Linked DNA regions of Homo sapiens: regions 1 and 2 are each linked to region 3. Evidence: fine-mapped expression QTL. A gene starts in region 3. Each other region holds a variant in brackets. All regions are shown on one strand. Distances are from middle to middle. Region 1 overlaps GRK4 (G protein-coupled receptor kinase 4). Region 2 overlaps NOP14 (NOP14 nucleolar protein). Region 3 holds the start of NOP14 (NOP14 nucleolar protein).

What was found.
Region 1: its variant is fine-mapped to the expression of NOP14 in cerebral cortex (GTEx, PIP above 0.99). The same link has a PIP of 0.9 or more in cerebellum.
Region 2: its variant is fine-mapped to the expression of NOP14 in whole blood (TOPMed, PIP above 0.99).

The regions. Positions count from the first base shown.
Region 1 is chr4:3,008,272-3,015,275 of GRCh38, forward strand. GRK4 (G protein-coupled receptor kinase 4) reads left to right here. Exons shown (of 16, transcript NM_182982.3): 7 at 1,377-1,440; 8 at 5,417-5,557. Among named protein-coding and RNA genes, the nearest start is that of GRK4, 48 kb to the left of the region's middle. RefSeq lists enhancers at 1,162-2,361, 5,447-5,506. The variant C/T (reference allele first, on the strand shown) is at 3,414.
Region 2 is chr4:2,939,337-2,945,331 of GRCh38, forward strand. It overlaps NOP14 (NOP14 nucleolar protein), which reads right to left. Exons shown (of 18, transcript NM_001291978.2): 12 at 5,792-5,893; 13 at 4,737-4,890; 14 at 2,856-3,015; 15 at 2,246-2,393; 16 at 191-309; 17 at 1-7. The region is part of intron 2 of NOP14-AS1 (NOP14 antisense RNA 1); the gene reads left to right. Among named protein-coding and RNA genes, the nearest start is that of NOP14-AS1, 6.8 kb to the left of the region's middle. The variant G/A (reference allele first, on the strand shown) is at 3,273.
Region 3 is chr4:2,960,203-2,967,206 of GRCh38, forward strand. It overlaps NOP14 (NOP14 nucleolar protein), which reads right to left and starts at 3,204. Exons shown (of 18, transcript NM_001291978.2): 1 at 2,923-3,204. The coding sequence starts at 3,117. It overlaps GRK4 (G protein-coupled receptor kinase 4), which reads left to right and starts at 3,369. Exons shown (of 16, transcript NM_182982.3): 1 at 3,369-3,920. The coding sequence starts at 3,869. RefSeq lists enhancers at 1,762-1,831, 2,862-3,395, 3,396-3,929 and silencers at 3,392-3,821, 3,992-4,041.

The sequences.
Region 1 (7,004 bases), 48 kb after region 3:
TTTTTAGTGCTAGAATAGGATGCAATGGGTGGGACCTGGCAGTTAAACCCTGCTCAGCCTCTTACTGTTTATGTGGCCTCAGGTAAGTGGCTTAGCTTGTATGAGTGGCAGGTCCTTGTTCTATAAATTACAGGTAATTATAGAATCTGCCTCCTTGGACCATTGCTAGGATCACCTGGGAAATGTGTGTACAACGCTTATAGCACAATGTTTGGTGCACAAAATAAGTGCTTAAAAAGTGTTAGCTGTGGGCCGGGCGCAGTGGCTCATGCCGGTAATCCAGCACTTTGGGAGGCCGAGGCGGGTGGATCACCTGAGGTCAGCAGTTCAAGACCAGCCTGGCCAAAATGGTGAAACCCGTCTCTACTAGAACTACAAAACTTAGCCAGGCACGGTGGCATGCACCTGTACTCCCAGCTACTTGGGAGGCTGAGGCAGGAGAAATCGCCTGAACCCAGGAGGTGGAGGTTGCAGTGAGCTGAGGTGGCTCCACTGCACTCCAGCCTGGGCAACACAGCAAGACTCTGTCTCAAAAAAAAAAAAAAAAGTGTTAGCTGCTACTAGTGTTATTATTAGTACTATTATTATTGATTGATTAAATTTCCAGTTCTTGCTTATACATGCTGTTTTTGAGGCGCTGGGTATAAACATCTTTGAGGTTCTTTTTTCAAAGGATGGCACAACGTATATACGTCATCTTCTTCACCTGCTTTCTGACAGGTTGAGAGGGATCTACCCAAGAGTATACCAGGAGTTATGAACATACATATTTCCTAGTGTTGGCTGGTTTCAGACCTATCTTTAGTTAGTGAGGATAATTAGACTGTTCTGCCTTTTGCTTCAGTGTCTTAAATATTAATTAAGATTAATTGGCCGGGTGGTGGCTCACGCCTATAATCCCAGCACTTTGGGAGGCTGAGGCGGGTGAATCATGAGGTCAGGAGTTCGAGACCAGCCTGGTAAACATGGTGAAAACCCGTCTCTACTAAAAATACAAAAAATTAGCTGGGTATAGTGGCAGGCGCCTGTAATCCCAGCTACTCGGGAGGCTGAGGCAGGAAAATTGCCTCAATCCAGGAGGCGGAGGTTGCAGTGAGCCTAGATCGTGCCACTGCACTCCAGCCCTGGCGACAGAGTGAGACTCCATCTCAAAAAAAAAAAAAAAAAAAAAGATGAATTAATTGCTCTTAGAGCAAGTCAAGAGCTATCCTGCTAGAGGGAGCCACAGTCCCTGAGCACAGACACCCTTTGTCCCGGGCATCCCCTTTGAGCAGAATGGTTCAATAAATGAGGCGAAGACAAGCGCTGAGTAAACTTTTCTTTTTTAAAAGAACAATGCAATGTGAGACCTGAAACTTGTTTTTCTCATTGATTAGGCAACCCGTAACAAAGAACACATTTAGACATTACAGAGTTCTAGGAAAAGGCGGATTTGGAGAGGTGAGTAACGGGAGCCAGTTCATAGCAGCGCTGCTAGCTGGGTGGGGAGCAAGGTCCTGAGAACATGGCTTCAGGTAATGCATCAGCTCTCCCAGTACACTGTTGCCTTAGTGGGTGTTTTGGGAATAATCTTTGCCAACTGTGAGAATCCACATGGAATTTTGAGCAAAAGGTTTTTAAGAATCCCTTCTCTTGGTGACTTCACCTTTTACCTCATAGTTCTGAAGAAGCTGGTTTCCATGCTTGATGCCCCAGCTCAGTCACTTTGCCCAGATGGAAAGACGATTCTGTTTCCGCATTGTGGAATTTCCATGATTCTATTTCCATACATTTAAGACTGGTCCCAAATTCACATAGTACAGAGTGAATTAGTAAATATACTTACGTAACCCTACTCTGTTTGGACACGTATGTACCTCATACCTACATCAAAAGGTGTTTGGAAATGTGTCAATTTGGGAAAATCCTAAGGAAATGACTCACAGACTCACGAGGGGTGTTTTTTTTGTTTTGTTTTGTTTTGTTTTGTTTTGAGATGGAGTTTCGCTCTTGTTGCCTAGACTGGAGTGCAATGGCGTGATCTCAGCTCACCACAACCTCCGCCTCCTGAGTTCAAGCGATTCTCCTGCCTCAGCCTCCCGAGTAGCTGGTATTACAGGCATGCGCCACCACACCTAGCTAATTTTCGTATTTTTAGTAGAGAGGGGGTTTCTCCATGTTGGTCAGGGTGGTCTTGAACTCCCGACCTCGGGTGATCCGCCCTCCTCAGCCTCCCAAAGTGCTGGGATTACAGGCGTGAGCCACCGTGCCTGGCCCGGGGTGTTGTTTAAATATGATGGGTCTCCTAGATGGAGACCACTGTAGTTGGTGGATGGAGAACAGCAGCAGTTCTGGTCTGGGGATTTAAAGAGATATTAATTACCTTACTAGTTACCTGGAGTGATCATATGGAGTTCAAGAACTTTTAAGTCCCTAAGAGCCAGGCAAGCCATTGGCAAACTAATACTGTATGTTTAACTCAGGAGCAGGTTACACTGCCCGGGTGTGACTCAGATATTACTGCTCCCATATTACAATTCAAAGGAAAAGCCACTAGCATTGCCTTGAAGTTAATTAGAAAGCTGACCTAGGAGGCAGCACACTGCACCTATATCTGTTATGCACCTGCAGCTTGACATGACAAGAAATTGGCCAACGTAGTTGTTACTTCAGGAGAAGTAACAGTACTGTCCCTCTGGTACAGTTCCAGAGACCATGAAGAATATTTTGCCTAATCCAATCGTATGCTTGCTCTAATCCCTCCATGATAGATATTTCTGTAAGAAATCCACCCTCTGTTTGAATATGTCCTAGAACAGGAAAGTCATTTTCTTACTTGGACTCTTGCTAATCTGCCTTTAATGATCTGCAAATGTAATGACTCAGATTTTGTGAAAGAACAGAGGAAAAATTTCTGGAACATGGGTCATGTGTTTACAAAGGAATGAAAGTCTAATTATAGCCACATGTAAGTTTTTAAAACATGTCAGTCTTAATAGGATATAATAGGGACATGTTAGCAAATTTTAGCTATTGTGAAAGACCTGGTGCTGGGCGCGGTGGCTCACGCCTGTAATCCTAGCACTTCGGGAGGCCAAGGTAGGCAGATCGCTTGAGCCCAGAAGTTCCAGATCAGCCTAGGCAACATGGCAAGACCCCATCTCTATTTAAATATTTAATATAAATAAATACATTAAAAAAGAAGATAAGAAAGACTCAGTATAATTATGATTGTATAGATTACTTTTTAACAGATTTACTTGGGTTCCCAAACAAATGATTGGCTGCACGAATAAAGCATGGCAGTTTCCCACAGACTTGCTCTGGAGGTGTTGTACTCTCAGTCAAGGCCCAGAGGCAGTGAGCAGTCAGCTCACCCCTACTCTGAATGCCTGTCAGAAGGAGCCCTGCTTGCCCTCATGCGGGGACAGCCT[C/T]GGTGCCCTTTAATCCAGATTCTAATCGTGCATTTGCTTTTTCCAAGTGCTAGCACTTCCTCCAGTGGGCTTGAGAGAGCAAACCTAGTTGGTTTTATTTTGTCAACAGTAATTCTTTCGCTTATGCTTGAAGTCCTCCGAAATGAATTTGTAGGGTCCTGAGTGAGCACAATGGTAAAGGAATTGAGTAGACATCTCTGCTGTCATGGTTTTAGGCCACAGACTGTAGTGGAAAGAGCACGTACTTCAGACGTGGGCAGACCCGAGGTCAGGGTCCTGTCGTATCACTTCCAGCAGCGTGATCTTGGGCCCGCCATCGTGATCTCATCTCTAGCAGGGAAATAATCGGCCCTGCCCGCCAGGCTGCTGTGAGCCAGCGAGTGTTCACACCCAGCTCTCAGCACAGTGCCTGGCACTCTTGTCTGCTTTCCATTCCCTTTCTCTGATTTGCCCATTCCACTTAGAATAATTTGTTTTAAATTAACGATAAAGAGATATGAAGAGATTTTTATGCCAAGTCTTAATGGTAAGAAAATGATTAAATACATATTGGGATAGTCACATTTTAGGAAAACATTTCACGATAGGAAAATAGTCACACAATAAGATTTTTTAAAAGGAGGTTAGGAAATATTACCTATTTTACAATACGAGACCAGTTTTGCCATGAAAGGCTGGAGTGGTGGGAACAGGGTATGTATTCTTGCATACCCATGTAAGAAGGTGGGCCCAAAATCAAATAGAGCAAAATATTAACAGTCATTATCTTGGAATTACGGGTGAGTTTTTATCACTGTCCTTATTACTTCCAATATTTTCCACAATTAACTTTGTATTTCTTTTACCACCAAAATTATTTTATTGATAGATAAAATTAAATCATGTCTTATGTTTGCTTTTAAAGCAGTCCCCTGTGGGGTGTGCAGTGGATGGGAGTTGGAAGAAACAGCAGCCTAATGTTGATGACACAGAGGCACGGGGACCAGAACCTGAGGCTCATGATACTATTTTTTCCACTTTTGTATGTTGGAAATTTTTCATGACATAAAGTTAAAATAATACATAAATACTACTTTAAGAAGTAATAGAATAAAGATATGAAAATTGTGAATTCTATGAAATATATTTCCTTATACTCTTGACATTTTAAATTAAAAAATCAAGAATCTTTTTAGGCCAGGCGCGGTGGCTCACACCTGTTAATCCTAGCGCTTTGGAAGGCCAAAGTGGGCAGATCACCTGAGGTCAGGAGTTCAAGACCAGCCTGGCCAAAATGGTGAAATCCCGTCTTTACTAAAAATACAAGAAAAATTAGCCAGGCATGGTGGCGGGCACCTGTAATCCCAGCTACTTGGGAGGCTGAGGCAGGAGAATCTTGAGACGGAGTCTCACTCTGTCGCCCAGGCTGGAGTGCAGTGGCGCGATCTCGGCTTACTACAACCTCTGCCTCCCGGGTTTAAGCGATTCTCCTGCCTCAGCCTCTGGAGTAGCTGGGGCTACAGGCACCCGCCACCATGCCTAGTTAATTTTTTTGTTTTTTTATTTTTCGTAGAGACGGGGTGTCGCCATGTTGGCCAGGTTGGTTTCGAGCTCCTGACCTCAGGTGATCTGCCTGCCTTGGCCTCCCAAAGTGCTGGGATTGTAGGCATGAGCCACCATGCCCAGCTGAAAAAGAATCTTTTCAGTTTTACTTTTTAAAACTTTTGCACTTTTACAAAAAGTAAAATACACATATGGGGACATTTAAAAATTAAACATTTACCGTGATCACCTATGCCAACTAGTTCCATTTGTACACTGTCTTAGAGTTGATAGAGTACAGTGCATCACTGAGGGAGGAGCCGACTCACACTGACGAAGCTCACCTTTGAAACGGTCTCGGCTCCTCATGCACTGCTGCTGGTCTCTGCCAGTGAGGGTCTCATCAAGCAAAGAGCTTCCTTTGTGTGGCCTAAGAAATGCCAGGTGGACATAAACCTCCTTTATTTTGCTGTTTAAACTAGGTTTGCGCCTGTCAAGTGCGAGCCACAGGAAAAATGTATGCCTGCAAAAAGCTACAAAAAAAAAGAATAAAGAAGAGGAAAGGTGAAGCTATGGCTCTAAATGAGAAAAGAATTCTGGAGAAAGTGCAAAGTAGATTCGTAGTAAGTGTCTCCTCTTAGTCTTCACTGTGCATTGTTTGATTCATAGCACTTTTGTCAGCCGACATGCCGCTCAGCTCACGCTCACTGAAGCCGTGGAAGTCATTTCTTGTTTTCTGAGTTTATGTGGGGGTTTGCTCTTTTTAGTAACAGTTTTGTTTTTAGTAACAGCTCTCTTCTTTCTTATTCAAACCTTAGAAAACATAGAAGGAGTGATACTGCTTCTAACTTCTGGTTTGTTATAAATCTGTAGTCCCCCGCCTCCCATTCTGTCACTCTTCACACCTGCCAGCTTGCAGAGGCTCCAGGTCCATTAGTTACCCGTGTTTCTTGGTGAATTGCCCTTTCCTTTCCCTTATCACAGCCAGCCAGAGCTTATCTCTGTTTGCTCTCAGCCTCCAGTCAATTTCTCTGGCCCCTGGGACACTGTGACTTGGCTGTGCTTGAGGATACCTTCTCTCTCTCTCTCTCTTTTTTTTTTTTTTTTTTGACACAGGGTTTCGCTCTGTTGTCCAGGCTGGAGCGCAATGGCACGATCTTGGGTCACTGCAGCCTCAACCTTCCAGGCCCAAGTGATCCTCCTACCTCAGCCTCCCAAGCAGCTGGGACCACAGGCACACACCACCATGCCCAACTAGGTTTTAATTTTTTTATTTTTATTCTTATTTTTTAGAGATGAGATCTCTGGCCAGGCGCGGTGGCTCACACCTGTAATCCCACCACTTAGGGAGGCCAAGGAGGGTGGATCACCTGAGGTCAGGAGTTCGAGACCAGCCTGACCAACATGGTGAAATCCCGTCTCTACTAAAAATACAAAAAGAATTAGGTGGGCCTGGTGGCGCGTGCCTGTAGTCCCAGCTACTTGGGATGCTGGTGCAGGAGAATCACTTGAACCTGGGAGGCGGAGGTTGCAGTGAGCTGAGATTGCACCACCGCACTCCAGCCTGGGCAACAGAGCGAGACTCCGTTTCAAAAAAAAGAGAGAGAGATGAGATCTCCCTATGTTGCTCAGGCTGGTCTTGAACTCCTGGGCTCAAGTGATCCACCTGCCTCAGCTTCCCAAAGTGTTGGGATTACAGGTGTGAGCTACCACGTCTGGCTGAGGATACCTTCTCTAGCCCCCTTCTCATGTGGGCCTCCTCCCTCTGGCCTCAATCTGCTTTCCGTCTTTTCCTTTTTCTGGGAAGTTTACCGCTAGGCCCTCAACTAGCATATCCCAATTGTATGAAGCCCAAATACCACCTTCCCACCTTTCTGGAAAGGACAGAACATTGGGCGGACTGGTATGAGCTCAGGGGAGCAGTTCCAGGCTTTACGGTGTGCATTGTATAGTGTGGTTCTCATCTCCAAACCCAGTTTCTCTCTACCTAATTACATATGTCCTGTAGCAGCTACTGAAGTATGAAGACTGGTTGAAGGGAGAGTGTGAACGAGAATTTATAAAATGATT
Region 2 (5,995 bases), 21 kb before region 3:
CTCGAGGCTACAACCAGAAAGCCACTGTTAAGGAAGCAAGAGTCTGTCCCCACCTCTCAGCCAGAGCCTGCTTGGGAGTGTGGCTTCACTCCGTAGTCATCTGCTCAACTGCAGAACTGGCAGACGCCCCCCGTCAGCTCCCACTGAGCCCACAGCCCTGGCCTCCCAGGGAGATGCTGCCAGCACCCACACTTTGACCAGCCGGGGTGTGAAAAGCTTCAGTGGGACAGGCTTGCTCTTCTCACAGGTCAGCGGCCGGCAGAGCTGCTTCTGGCTTTCCATTTCGGTCAGTGTGCTCTGACACAGCTCCTGAAAAACACGAAATCCCCGACTCTGCGATGACTCACCTGCTGCGTGCCCTGAGCTCCACGCACGGGTTCTGTGGTGTCAAGGCAGCGTGAGGACAGTGCTGCGAGCTCCCTGCAGCAGGATGGTGCCCTTGCTGTGCGCCTACCGGTGGGCGGGGGGGTAAGCCAAGGCTGTGGCTGCTCAAGTCCTGGCACAGCCGGAACGAAGTAAAGCCACTGTCTTCTTGAAGAGGGAGGGCCGTGGGCTGGCCCCTGAGAGCACTCTCTGAAAGGAGGGGACTTGGGGAGTTGGAGGTCACCATAGCCTGTGCTCCTCACAGCCAGAAACGTCAACAGAACCCCTCTTTCCCAGACAAACTTGGCACGAAAGGCCGTGAGCCACTTGCTTCGTGAGAAGGCTCACAGGAGAACCCCTTTCTGCCGCGGGGGGCCGTGTGCATGCTAGAGCCCAGTGTGCAAACTGACGCTGGGTGCTAGGCGGGGCAGGGTTTCCACCAGTCTTGGCAGTTTGACCTTATTTTCAAGCCAACAGAACCAGATGGTTAAGACCCATTTTCACCAAGACCTTGGCTTCCAGAAGAGTTGGCTGGTGGCTTCTGAGGAATCTCCCGAAAGGTAGTTCACTGAGGTTGGTCCTACCCGCTTTCTCCTGCACAGGTGTGTCCTGGAACCCTGGCTGCACCCACAGATACAGCCACTCCTGGGCCCATGTGGATGTAACCTTCGAGTGCCGGAATGCCTCGTCTCCATGGAGACCAAACTCAAGGGCCTGACTGGCCCAGTCTACCGAGACCATGAGACCTGCTGTGCCCCTCGGCCAGGCCAACCCAAATTCTTTTAAATAAAAGGCACAAGCCACAGCCACACCAGCAGGAAGTGGATACAGGATAAGGGGCAGGGCTCACATCTCATCCTCATCAGCCTTTGACCAGGCGACGGAGTCTGTGATAGCTAGCTTATCTGCTCTATGCTCCAGGGACCTGGCCGGAACGAGCCGAGTTGCTGTCCTCATGGAACTCTCATCCTAGTGGGGCAGAGACAAGGACGGTGTAACGTGCCCGGGGGTCAGCACCACAGACAAAACGCAGGGAGCACGGCACAGTGTGGGCCAGGGAAGGCCTGGCTTCCCAAGGGTGTGGGCGCGAGCAGCATGGCTGTGGGGAGTTCTAGGTGCAGAGAACTACTCCAGAGACGAAGCCAGGCCTGCGAGGAGGCCGGAGCGCATGAGGGGAAGGCACGAGGCAAGGCTGCCAGGGCTGTGCTGGTGGTGCGGGACGGTCCTGTGGGGGTAGCTGCGGAGATGGCACTGATGCCTTCGGCTCCAGCAGCATCCTGGGCTGGTGCGGGCCAATAAGGGGCAGGGTTGGGGCAGGATGAAAGGCACAAGCCACAGCCATGTCAAGCAGGAAGTGGATGCAGGGTACAGCCTGTCAGGGTCAGGGTGAAAGGCAGGGAGGCGGGTAGGCCATAGGTGAATTTGGAGCAGCCTGTAGAGGACAGGATGTGCCATCAAAGACTTGTTCTTGGGTCCAGCTGAGACTGTCCCTTGGGGCTTCCTGTCACCTTGTGCAGGATAGTGAGACCATCCTTGGAAAACCCATCGGGACTGCAGAGCGCGGCTCAGAGCTGACTGTCCAGGCCTGGCAGGGGCTGACCCCTGGGCGCTGGTGCACCCTCCGTGCGGCCTCTTGGAGGAAGCACACAAGGCGACAGTTCCCAGCTGCCGCCTGAGATGCAGCATCTGCTTTACTCCAGCCCAGCACTGCTCACCGTCACTGCCCACTCTTATGATTTTACTTCCCTTCATATTTGTGATTTTGCAAAGATGGTGTTGACTTACAGCTGCAGCATCAAATGACTGACTGCCACCAGCTTGGCCCCAGCTCAGGGACATGTCTGAGCCCAGGCAGAGCACCCTAGTGGCCGGGAAGCCTCACCTGGAGCTCCTGCGGGTGGCTGCAGTCCGCCAGGTGATCCGTGAGGAGGGCTTGGAGAGGCCCCATGATGGCGTGGAAGGATGGCAGGGACCCGTACATGAGCACGCAGCGCTTCAGCAGGGCCAGGCCCACAGCCAGGCAGGACAGTCTGTGAGGGCAGGAGGCAAGAGGAGGTCCAACTTGTTCTGTTTGTCACTGACAAAACCAATAACGTGGCAAAAATGAACTTCCCCACTTCCACTAGGCTGAAAACTCCAGTGTGGCCACCTTGGCCGGCCAGGGTTGGGCCCATGCAACCACGGGCAAGGCAGGCTCAGGGTCAGGCCTAACGCAGGAGGGGAGGCTGTGGGAACCGCAGCGCCAGCTGGGATGGGGCGGCTCCATTTTTGGTTCCAAATTATGATTTGTGAAATCAAGCAAATGTATTTTGAAAATGAAAAGAAAAAGGGACAGCAAGCCAACATGCCTCAGAAAGGCTTTCGGCCTCCATCAAACCAAACGGCCGGGCGGCAAGTTCACTAAGAACAGCACATCAGAAAGCACGAGTGGCTTCTCCTGCCTCTGGGGACGCTGTAGGGCACAGGCCCCAAAGCGGGGTCCCCTCACATACCGGATGTGATTGGCCTCTGTCGAAGTTGGGGCCCTCAGTCTACTCGCCCAGCGGAGGGAGAGGCTGCTCTGCTGCCACGTGGCCACATCCTCTCTAGCAGACACCACGAGCAGTTCCGAGTTCTTCCCAAGCGCTCTGAAAGGGTGCACCAGAGTGGAACCTGAATTCCAAGTGCGACAGGACAGAGATGGCCTGAACATTACTGGGCTCCCAGCAGGCTCTGCGGCACCGAGCCTGTGGAAGTTCACCCTCTAACAGACGCACACCGATTTTTATGTTTCTGGGTTGTGCCAGACACTGAGGGTTTCAGCGTGGGCAGGGACACCTCAGGGGAGGGGAAAAGCTTTGGCAGGGGGCGCGGTGAGAGCCAAGTGCCTGATCCTGCCTGAGAGGCCTGCTGGCCACAGACTTCCTGGG[G/A]CCTACTAGGCACACATGGGGCTGATGAGGCGCTCAGGCCACATCCGGGAACAGACTGAAGTCCCTGCCCCTGTCGGGGAGACAGGCAGTGCACAGCACCCAGAGGAGCAAATGGACCAGACAGAACACGAGAAAGGAAAGTGGAGGGGCAGGAGGGAGACAGGAGAGTCAGTCGGGGGTGACGGTGGAGGGCGGGAGAGGCCTGAGGGGCAGACGTCAGCAAAGGCCTGTAGGACGCAGGAGTCAATTCACTCGCCACGGAGAAGGGCAATCCAGGCCGAGGGTGTGGCTACACGGGGAGGGGTGGAGAGTGGGTACAGTGGGGCAGAGGTGCCGGGCCAAGCGAGAGGGGAAGGCGTGGGTCAGGCCCCGCCCCACACTTCCCCAAAGCCGAGATGCCCACCCCTTCCTTGACTCCACCTGTGCCCAGCCTGTTCCGTCACAGCCCTTCACACGTGGGACTGCAGCTATCTACAGGTGGCTCTCCCGGAGGCAGGGAGCATGTGGGCGGCCGCGCCCCTCTGGCGCCCAGCACCGAGCCTGACAGACAGGAGCCTTGGGAGGCAGGTGGTGGCAGAATGGGAGCACTGAACCGGAAGAGTGGGCCAGACCCCTCTTGGAAGGGACTCTGCTGGTGGTGTGAATGATGCCACAGCACCTGCTCCTCAGGTCAGTCCCCTGGACATGCAGGCGCTTAGCACTGCACGGTGAGCTGGAAATAGAGGACAGGGGTCTGAGCCTTGAGGTCCAACCTCTGGTCAGGCTGGGAGAGGCGTCCACAGACATGGAAGAGCTCAGGAAGAGGCTGTGCAGCTCCTCACCCCCCAGAGGGAAGCAGCAAGTGCTGAGGAAGCATCCAGGAGCAGGGCTGGCATCAGGGGAAGGGGGAGGAGCACAGGGGCTGGGGTGAGGGCCCAGGAGGGCAGCCAGTGTGCAGACTGCTCCTCATCCCAACACTGCTCTTGCCGCCCTCGCTCCTGAATTCAGAGCGTTAAGAGAAGCGACACAGCAGCGCGGCCTGTGTGAGCTGCACGAGAACTTTCACACTGCCTTGTCGTCACGTGAGAAAAAGTAAAAAGTTAAGATTGATTTTAACAATAGACCTTATCTAACCCCAAATACCAAAATATTATGATTTTAACACATAATACAAAAAATTAAGATATTTTAAGTATTTCTGACACTAAGTCTTCGCCACTTGGGCATATGTCACAGGTAGGGTACGTCTCAGTTCAGACTCTGGCCCCTGGCAACCACGCTGGACAGCACAGGTCACCGGTAGCACTGCTTTTCCCCATGTGGCGCGTGCACACGCTCACACAGAGGGACAGACAGTGCGGCGGGTGGCAGGTTGTGTGTTTCCTCTACTTTCGCATATTCTAAACTTTCTACAATGAGTATGAACTACTTAAAAAAATTCTAAAGTATAACATATTTGTAGGAACCTCCCTCAAATCAACTCACCTTGGCTTGCTTTGTTTGGAGTTGCTATGTAAAGAATCCCAAGAAGAAAATTAATAAGCTCAGGTATAAACCTCTGGGACAAAGCCACATACTCCAGGAACAGGCAGCACACGAACAGGCCCTTCACCACGTCCTGGAGGGACAGGATGGGGCACTGGAAAGGAACATATGGGGGGTTACTGTCCTGGGACGATGTCATGCCATGCTAGGCCGACCACCGGGCTTCCCTGATGAACCACGCACCCCACTGAGCTTCACAAGTACAGAGGGAACCCCCGCACCTTATAGCAGTGTCGAGAGCATCAAATGAGATGAAAACAAGATAAAGAGCTTTAGTGATTTTTTTTTCCCGAGACGGAGTTTCACTCTTACCACCCAGGCTGGAGTGCAATGGCACAATCTCGGCTCACTGCAACCTCCACCTCCCGGGTTCAAGTGATTTTCCTGCCTCAGTCTCCCGAGTAGCTGGGATTACAGGCATGTGGCACCACACCCAGCTAATTTTTGTATTTTTAGTAGAGACGGGGTTTCGCCATGTTGGCCACACTGGTCTTGAACTCCCGACCTCAGGTGATCCGCCCGCCTCAGCCTCCGAAAGTGCTGGGATTACAGGCGTGAGCCACCGCGCCTGGCCAGAGCTATACTGATTATAAAGTTCCTTCCACCCATACAGAGCGTACGATTACTGCACTAAGCATGTACCAATCACATGCCTAATAAAGAAAAAGGAACAGCTTGAACTTTTTAAGCCAAAAAGGGAACAAAAGCCCTTATCATCACACTGGATAACTTCACCACTAACTTGAAAGGTTGTTTTCTGGGGTAGCACCATCTGTAACCTTGAGGTGCCAAACCAGGCCCTCCCACTCCCACCCACATCTGGGGCTGCTCGAGCCGGGGCTCTTTTAGATGGGCCCTCTTTGGCCTAACCGCAGTGCTCGGTCTCTGCAGCCCTTAAACAGCCACACTCATGTTCCACAAGGCCCCGAGGGGCTGTGGCTCCGGCCACCCGTGGTGCAGCAGGCCGACCCCTGCCGCATGTGGAGAGAACGCACCTTGGTGAGCAGCTGACTGAGGCACACGAGGGCAGGGGTCACCACTGGGTGCCAGAAGTCGGAAGTTGGAAATAGCAGCCCAGTGATTTTCAAATAAATGAGCTGGAAAGAAAGTGTTACCACAGGTTAAAGAAGGTAAATGAAGTCCATCCATATGCCCTCCCCGCAAACACTCCGGAGCCAAGAACAGGATCTGGCGAGGAG
Region 3 (7,004 bases):
CTCAGGCAATCTGCCTGCCTCGGCCTCCCAAAGTGCTAGGATCACAGGTGTGAGCCACCAAACCCAGCATACACCGAGAAGACTTCTGAGGTCTGTCCCTGCAGAGGGAGGGAGTGTCACTGGCTTCTAGCAGGAAGGGGGTAGATGGGGCAGGCATCAGCCATCTCTGCCTCTAAAAATATTAGTTCTCATTATCTGGAATATGATTCTATGGGTAAATCTTAGTGAAGAACAGCCCTTAGGCTATAAATACGTAATATGAGTTATTCTACATTATTGTGATTCTCTTTCTTTCTTAAACTATATAGATGTTGTGACATCATATGGAATTTACGGCATAAAATGGGGATAACAGTACTTCCCCCTCATAACGGTGAGGATTAAATGTAAACCGTGTGGCACAAGGCCTGACCAACTGTAAGGGACCAGTAACTATATTATTAATATAGTTACTATATATTATTATATTAATATTATATTAATATTATAATCACATTAATATTAATATATTAATATTATAATCACATTAATATTAATATATTAATATTATAATCACATTAATATTAATATATTAATATTATAATCACATTAATATTAATATATTAATATTATAATCACATTATCAATATATTAATATTATAATCACATTATCAATATATTAATATTATAATTACATTATTATTATATTATTATATCAATATTATATTAATATTATATCGATATTATTTTAATATTATATCAATATTATTATATTAATATTATATCAATATTATATTAATATTATATCGATATTATTTTAATATTATATCAATATTATTATATTAATATTATATCAATATTATATTAATACTACATCAATATTATATTAATACTATATTAATATTATAATAATATATTAATATTTTAATAATATATTAATATTATAATAATATATTAATATACTAATATAATAATATATTAATATGCTATTACAATAATATATTAATATGCTAATATTATAATAATATATTAATATATTAATATTGTTAGTATATTAATATATAGTAACTATATTAATAATATAGTTAGTATATTAATATATAGTAACTATATTAATATAGTTACTGATTTAAGAACTACATTAATATAACTTATTTTATAAATTATTTCAGAAATAAGGAAACTGAGGCACAGCTATAAAGCAATGTCCTGAGACTGGCACCTGGGGGCTGCCCTCTTCCTGCCAGACTGAGTGCCTCAGAGTGCTACAACTGACCAGAGGGGAGAAGCCAACTGAGGCAGCCTGTTTACTTCTAAGGGACTAACCCACATGAAAAGACCCAGGCCTCCTGCGCCGGCCTCACGGCCCCTACACGCGTTATCAAGCTTGGAGTCAACTGGACGACCTGCTGTCCCTCAGACAGCTGTGAGTGCCACACTTCACCATACCGGGACAATGTGCCTTTGCATGTGTGTCCTCTGCCCACCCTGGGCCCATGAACAGCTCACTCCCCTTGCAAAACTTGACTGTAACTCCCTCTAGAAGAATTTTTGGACTTTCCTAACTATTACACTTTTTCCTGACCGGGATCTCCTAAGGCACTCAGGTTCCATCTTTGATTTCTTCAAATATTTGTGTTTCTTCCAAGGGCCAAGCATTGGAGATCCAAAAAGGAGCAGCAATTCCCGTCCCCGTCCCAGGCCTTCAGCACAGGGCAGGGAGGTGGATCTGCTCAATACCAGAAGTTTGAGCAACCTGTCCTATTTGGGTTACATAGCTTGGGTGGTGAACCTGAGCTGGCCCTTTAGAGACTTTCGGAGGTAAGGCAGACCTTTTGGACAAACTGAGTTGCAAGAGGCGAAGCAAGGACAACAGCCAGACTGTGCGGGACTCGAACGACAAGCCAAGAAGGTTAAGAATAACAGTATTTAGAGAACACTTGCTGTGTGCTCTATGTGCTATCTTACTTAATTCTCACAAACCACCACGAGGGGTAGGATGTATACTATCATCTCTACTTTTGAAATGAGAAAACTGAGGCTTCAGTGGTGAAGACAAATGTGTCTCTTCTAGGGAACCACACTACCTTATTCTCCCACCCCGGCCCGGGGGTGTGTAATGAGGGACTCCTATCGAAGTCAGCTGTAAGTCTATCTTGCCTATTCATTATACAGGCTGTCGTCTTCGCGCAGTAAGGATAATATGTGTTTTGATTCAAAGACCATCCAGCTTGCACACTGTGATGAACAGAGATCAGGAGCTCATGAAGGCAAGGGCAAGTCTTATTTACCTTTATCTCCCCGAACCTAGAAGCGAGGTCAAACAGAAGCGCTCGGGGTAGCAAGAAGGCTTTGTAGATATTGAAATGTGAATGCATGCCCAGCCCTTACCAGGTGCGTGACCTTAGGAAATGCACTTGTCCTTTCTGTGCCTTAATTTTTTCACCAACCTGCTAATGTATGTTCCTCAGTGAAAATTTAAAAAAAAAAAAGTTAAAAAAACTAGGAAGCAATGAGTTTCCATAGAGTTACTTCCCAAGGAACAAGGTTACGCGCTTCGGGAGAGAGCCGATGAAACATCAAACGCAGCATCCTACACAGCCCCTATCCACCGTCCCCAAACCTGCAGAGCTCAAAGTAAACGCGGAAGGGTTAACAAGCAGCTTGGTCCAGGGCGCCGCCCGAAGTGACTGACTCGGCCTGACCCGGTTGGAGGAGTCGCCGAAATAACACGAGTGCAGGGTCTCCAAGACGGCGAGAGTTTCCAGGTCACTCCAGCTCAGAGAACAGCAGAGGCTTTCGGACTATCAAGTCAGTGCCGTGTGCCTGTCACGGCCTGTGCCGCTCAACGAGGAAACCGACGCACCGAGAAGGACGCAGCCGGCCGAGAGCAGCGTGGGGTCCAGATCCTGCCTTCCGGCTCCCCGTGCGCCCCCCGCTTACCTTCCTGAGGGCCCGTGCGCGAGACACCCCGGGCAGTCCCACGTCGTGGCGCGTCTTCCGGCCCAGGATCTGGAACTTCTGCCTGTTAACTTTCACCTCGAACGGATTGGAGTTGGCCTTCGCCGGGCCCCCTCGCGCTCCCGCCGGCGCCCCGGAGGCCTTCCTTCGCGCCCCGACCTTCTTCGCCTTCGCCATGGCGCGCGCCCCGCTGCGCCCAAGGGCCCGAGACCCGAAGAGAGACAGGCGCGCGCTACCCTAAGACACGTGCCGGGCCGCGGAACCGCTTCCTCGTCTCGCGAGAACAGCGCAGCACCTCCGACTCGCGAGAAGTAAACACCGCGCCCGCAGGCTCGGCTTACTCGCCGATAGGCTCAGCGACTACAACTCCCAGCAGGCCACGCGCCGCGGCCCGCCGTGTACTCTTGGCGCAGGGCCTTCTGGGAGCTGTAGTGCCCCGGCCGCGGCGGCGAGGGGCGCTCCCTCTTCAGCTAAGCCGTTAGCGCCGAGCCCGCCCGGGAGCGGGTCGCCGGCCGCGGCGGGCGCCCCTGCCAGTGAGCCCCTGTCCGAAGTGAGCCACGGCATTGACTCGGGGCTGCCCGGGGGCAGGGCACTGAGGAGGGAGTTGCGCGCGCGAGGCGAGGGCGATGGGGCCAAGAAGAACCGGGGCGATAGCGCGGCAGCGGTGACAGCTGGGACCCGCCGCGGTCGGGCTGCCCCCTCCCCTCGCCCCGACCGCTCCCCTGCTGGTGAGGGCCTGCGGAGGCGGCGGCGGCGGCGCCCTTGGTGGCAGTGGTGGCGGCGGAGCAGCCTCCCGGGATCGTGTCCGGAGCTCGAGGAGAGGGTGGTGCCCGGCGAGCTATGCACGGGGGCGGCGGCGTCTCCTCCTGTTCCGCCTCCTCAGTCTCCTCGGTCTCGCAGAATCCGCCGGCGGCGGCGGCGCCAGGACATGGAGCTCGAGAACATCGTGGCCAACTCGCTGCTGCTGAAAGCGCGTCAAGGTGGGTGCGCGGCAGGCGCCCCCGACCCCCCCCCCAGAGAACCCCGAATCCCGGGGAACCCTGGCCCCCCTGAAGGAACCCGACATCCCCGGAGAACCCCGATTTCCCTGGAGAGCCCCGACACCTCCCACTGGGGGAACCCAGATCTGCACGGAGCCGGAGCCGGGGTCTGTGCAGTGTGGTCAGGCTGCCCGGGCCAGGTCCCAGTCCCCATCTCCTGGCCCAGATGAGAGAAGTCTGCGCTTTGCTCTTCTTAGTCTTGCCCTGTGTCCTTGTCCTGTCCTCTCGGTGTGACCTCGGTGACAGTGTTGCTTCAGGATGCGGCAGGCAGTGTCCTGCTTGTGTTGGACAACCTGTCCCACCAAAAAAGAACGGCGTCTTTATGGTCTTAAGGGGGACAAAGAATAGCAGCCTGGGAACTACTCTGGGCGAGAACCTTCCGATAATGATTGTAGGGCAATGTTATTTTTAACATAGCTGCTTGGTTTTGAGGTTTGATCTGAGGCTCTATGGTGTGTCAAGTGTGCTTTAGCACGACGTGGTCACAGATGGACAAGTTGGCAAAAATTCAGCCTTTTATCATTATTAAAGTGAGGCAGAAATTTAAAAATAGTAATAAGTACTGCATTCATTCACTCCAAGAAAAGAAAAAGCCAAGGCCCAGAATGTGGCAAGGCAAGGGTTAAAAAGAAAAGAAGAACAAGTTTTCTTTTGCTTAGCAAGCTCACTTTAAGGACAGTTATAAGATAACGCTGTTCTGTTTGAGAAGTCGAATCCAAAGGAATAGGCTCCAGACACCCCCCTTCCAGAGCAGGGGTGAAGAAAAAAAAAAAAGAGGACAAATATCTGTGTTTAGCCAGTTCTTGGTTTTTTCTTTCAACGCAGCTACAAGGCCACCAGCTATGCAAGGCCACAAGTTATGCCAAGTCATCAGTTATGCTATAGATTATGTGACCTGTCATTATATGATTAACTGCCTTTGTTTTGCTTCTGTAAGTTTGCTTATAAAAATCCTGCTTAGTCTTTGTTCAAGGCTCAGCTTTTTGGATGTGAATCCACTGAGCTGGTGCGTACCTTAACATAAATATCCTCCTGTTTTCACCCATGCTGGTCTCTCTAGTCCTCTGCATCCCGCCACAAAAGCATCAGTTGGTCCAGCCCTTCAGCGGGAGACCCCCACAATCCTCTGTGCAATCCTCTGTCTCGGACCTCATGTCTCCCTTGCCTGCGTCTCAAGAGAGCTGGCGACAGAGCCTCGGACCTCAAGTCCCTGTGCTAGCCACGGTAGTTCTTCACACCCCGTCACTCTTACGGAATTGCTGATTTCCTCTATTTCCTTGCGTGATGGAGCAGCTCTGCTCGGACTGTGCTCCAGGACAGTGTAAATGCCGACTGAAGATGCCACAGCAGCCGGCGATGCATATTTAAAGGACAGTCTGGAGCCGAAGGTGGCGGCCACGCTTGTAGTCCCAGCTACTCTGGAAGCTGAGGTGGAAGGCTCACTTGGGCCCAGGAGAGTCCAGCCTGGGCAAAACACAGCAAGACCATCTCTTTAAAAAAGTCTAAAACAAAGACTTCATCTTCTCAGTATTTTTGTGCACCAACTCACACTATTTTGAATAGAAGAACTGAGAATGGGTGGGAAGAGAATGGGATCTTTTTCCCTTAAGATAATCAGGGAGTCCCAGAGCAGTATGCGTTCTCAGCAGCCATTTTCAGTGGAGCATTTGACTGTGCCTCTTATCCCTGACTGTGAACTCCAAATAGGTCATGGAAAATAATCATCCTTAGTGGAAGTCAGATTGAAGCTAAGCCAGTTTTCTTTTTACACTACCTTCCTATCTGCATGTAATTTACAAAAAGGAACTATACCAAGCCGCCTTCCTTATAATGCTGCAGAGATTAGATAATGAGATAAATACAAGTGCTCTATAAATGCTAAATAACATAAAACCAGATTCTGTCACAAAACCTAAGACCACAGTGATAGTTTGAAAAATGAAAGTTTTGGCCGGGCACGGTGGCTCACAGCTGTAATCCCAGCACTTTTGGAGGCCGAGGCGGGCGGATCACAAGGTCAGGAGATTGAGACCATCCTGGCTAACATGGTGAAACCCCGTCTCTACTAAAAATACAAAAATTAGCCGGGCGTGGTGGCGGGCGCCTGTAGTCCCAGCTACATGGGAGGCTGAGGCAGGAGAATGGCGTGAACCCTGGAGGCAGAGCTTGCAGTGAGCCGAGATCGCGCCACGGCACTCCAGCCTGGGTGACAGAGCGAGACTCCGTCTCGAAAAAAAAAAAAAAGAAAGTTTTAATTTTTTCCCTGAAATATCTCATATTAACTCCACAGTAGTGTGATTATGAGGCCTGTCCCCATTGAGTGAGAGTATTTGCTCCTGTGGTCAGAAAGCATCATTATGTATAGCTTGATTAATGGTTAGAGAAGTTGAATATATAATATTAGATATACATGGATACATGCTGAGTATTGGTTATAATTTAGGGCTTTTTCCCAAGTTGATGACTGTGTTTGTTACTTTAAAGTATCTCCCAGGAAGTACCAGGAGGTGTCTTCTTGGACACATAACTTCATGGACAGCTCCTTGTTTAGCTTCACTGGCTCATATACTAGAAAATTAACCTTTGAAATGAATGAACGTAGCACAAGAGTTATATTCTGGTCCTGAGAAGCGCAATGTTGATTTAATATTATTAGTGAGTCCGGTCATTTCCTGGATTTATTTCAAATAGAATCAGTCAGTCTCAATCCCCCCTCCCTCTCTGGTCCCTGCTATGGTCTGAATATTTGTGTTCCCCCAAAATTCTTATGTTGAAATCTTCACTACGAAGGGGATGGAATTAGGAGGTGGGGCATTTGGGAGGTGATTGGGTCATGAGAGTGGAACCCTCGTGAATGGTATTAGTGCCTTTATAAAAGAAACTAGAGAGACACCCCTCACTCCTTCTACCATGGACACAGAAAGAAGATGCCAGCTATGAATCAGAAAGTGGGCCCTCACCAGACACCAAATCTGTCTTGATCTTGGACTTTTTAGCTTCCAGAACTGTGAGAAATACATTTCT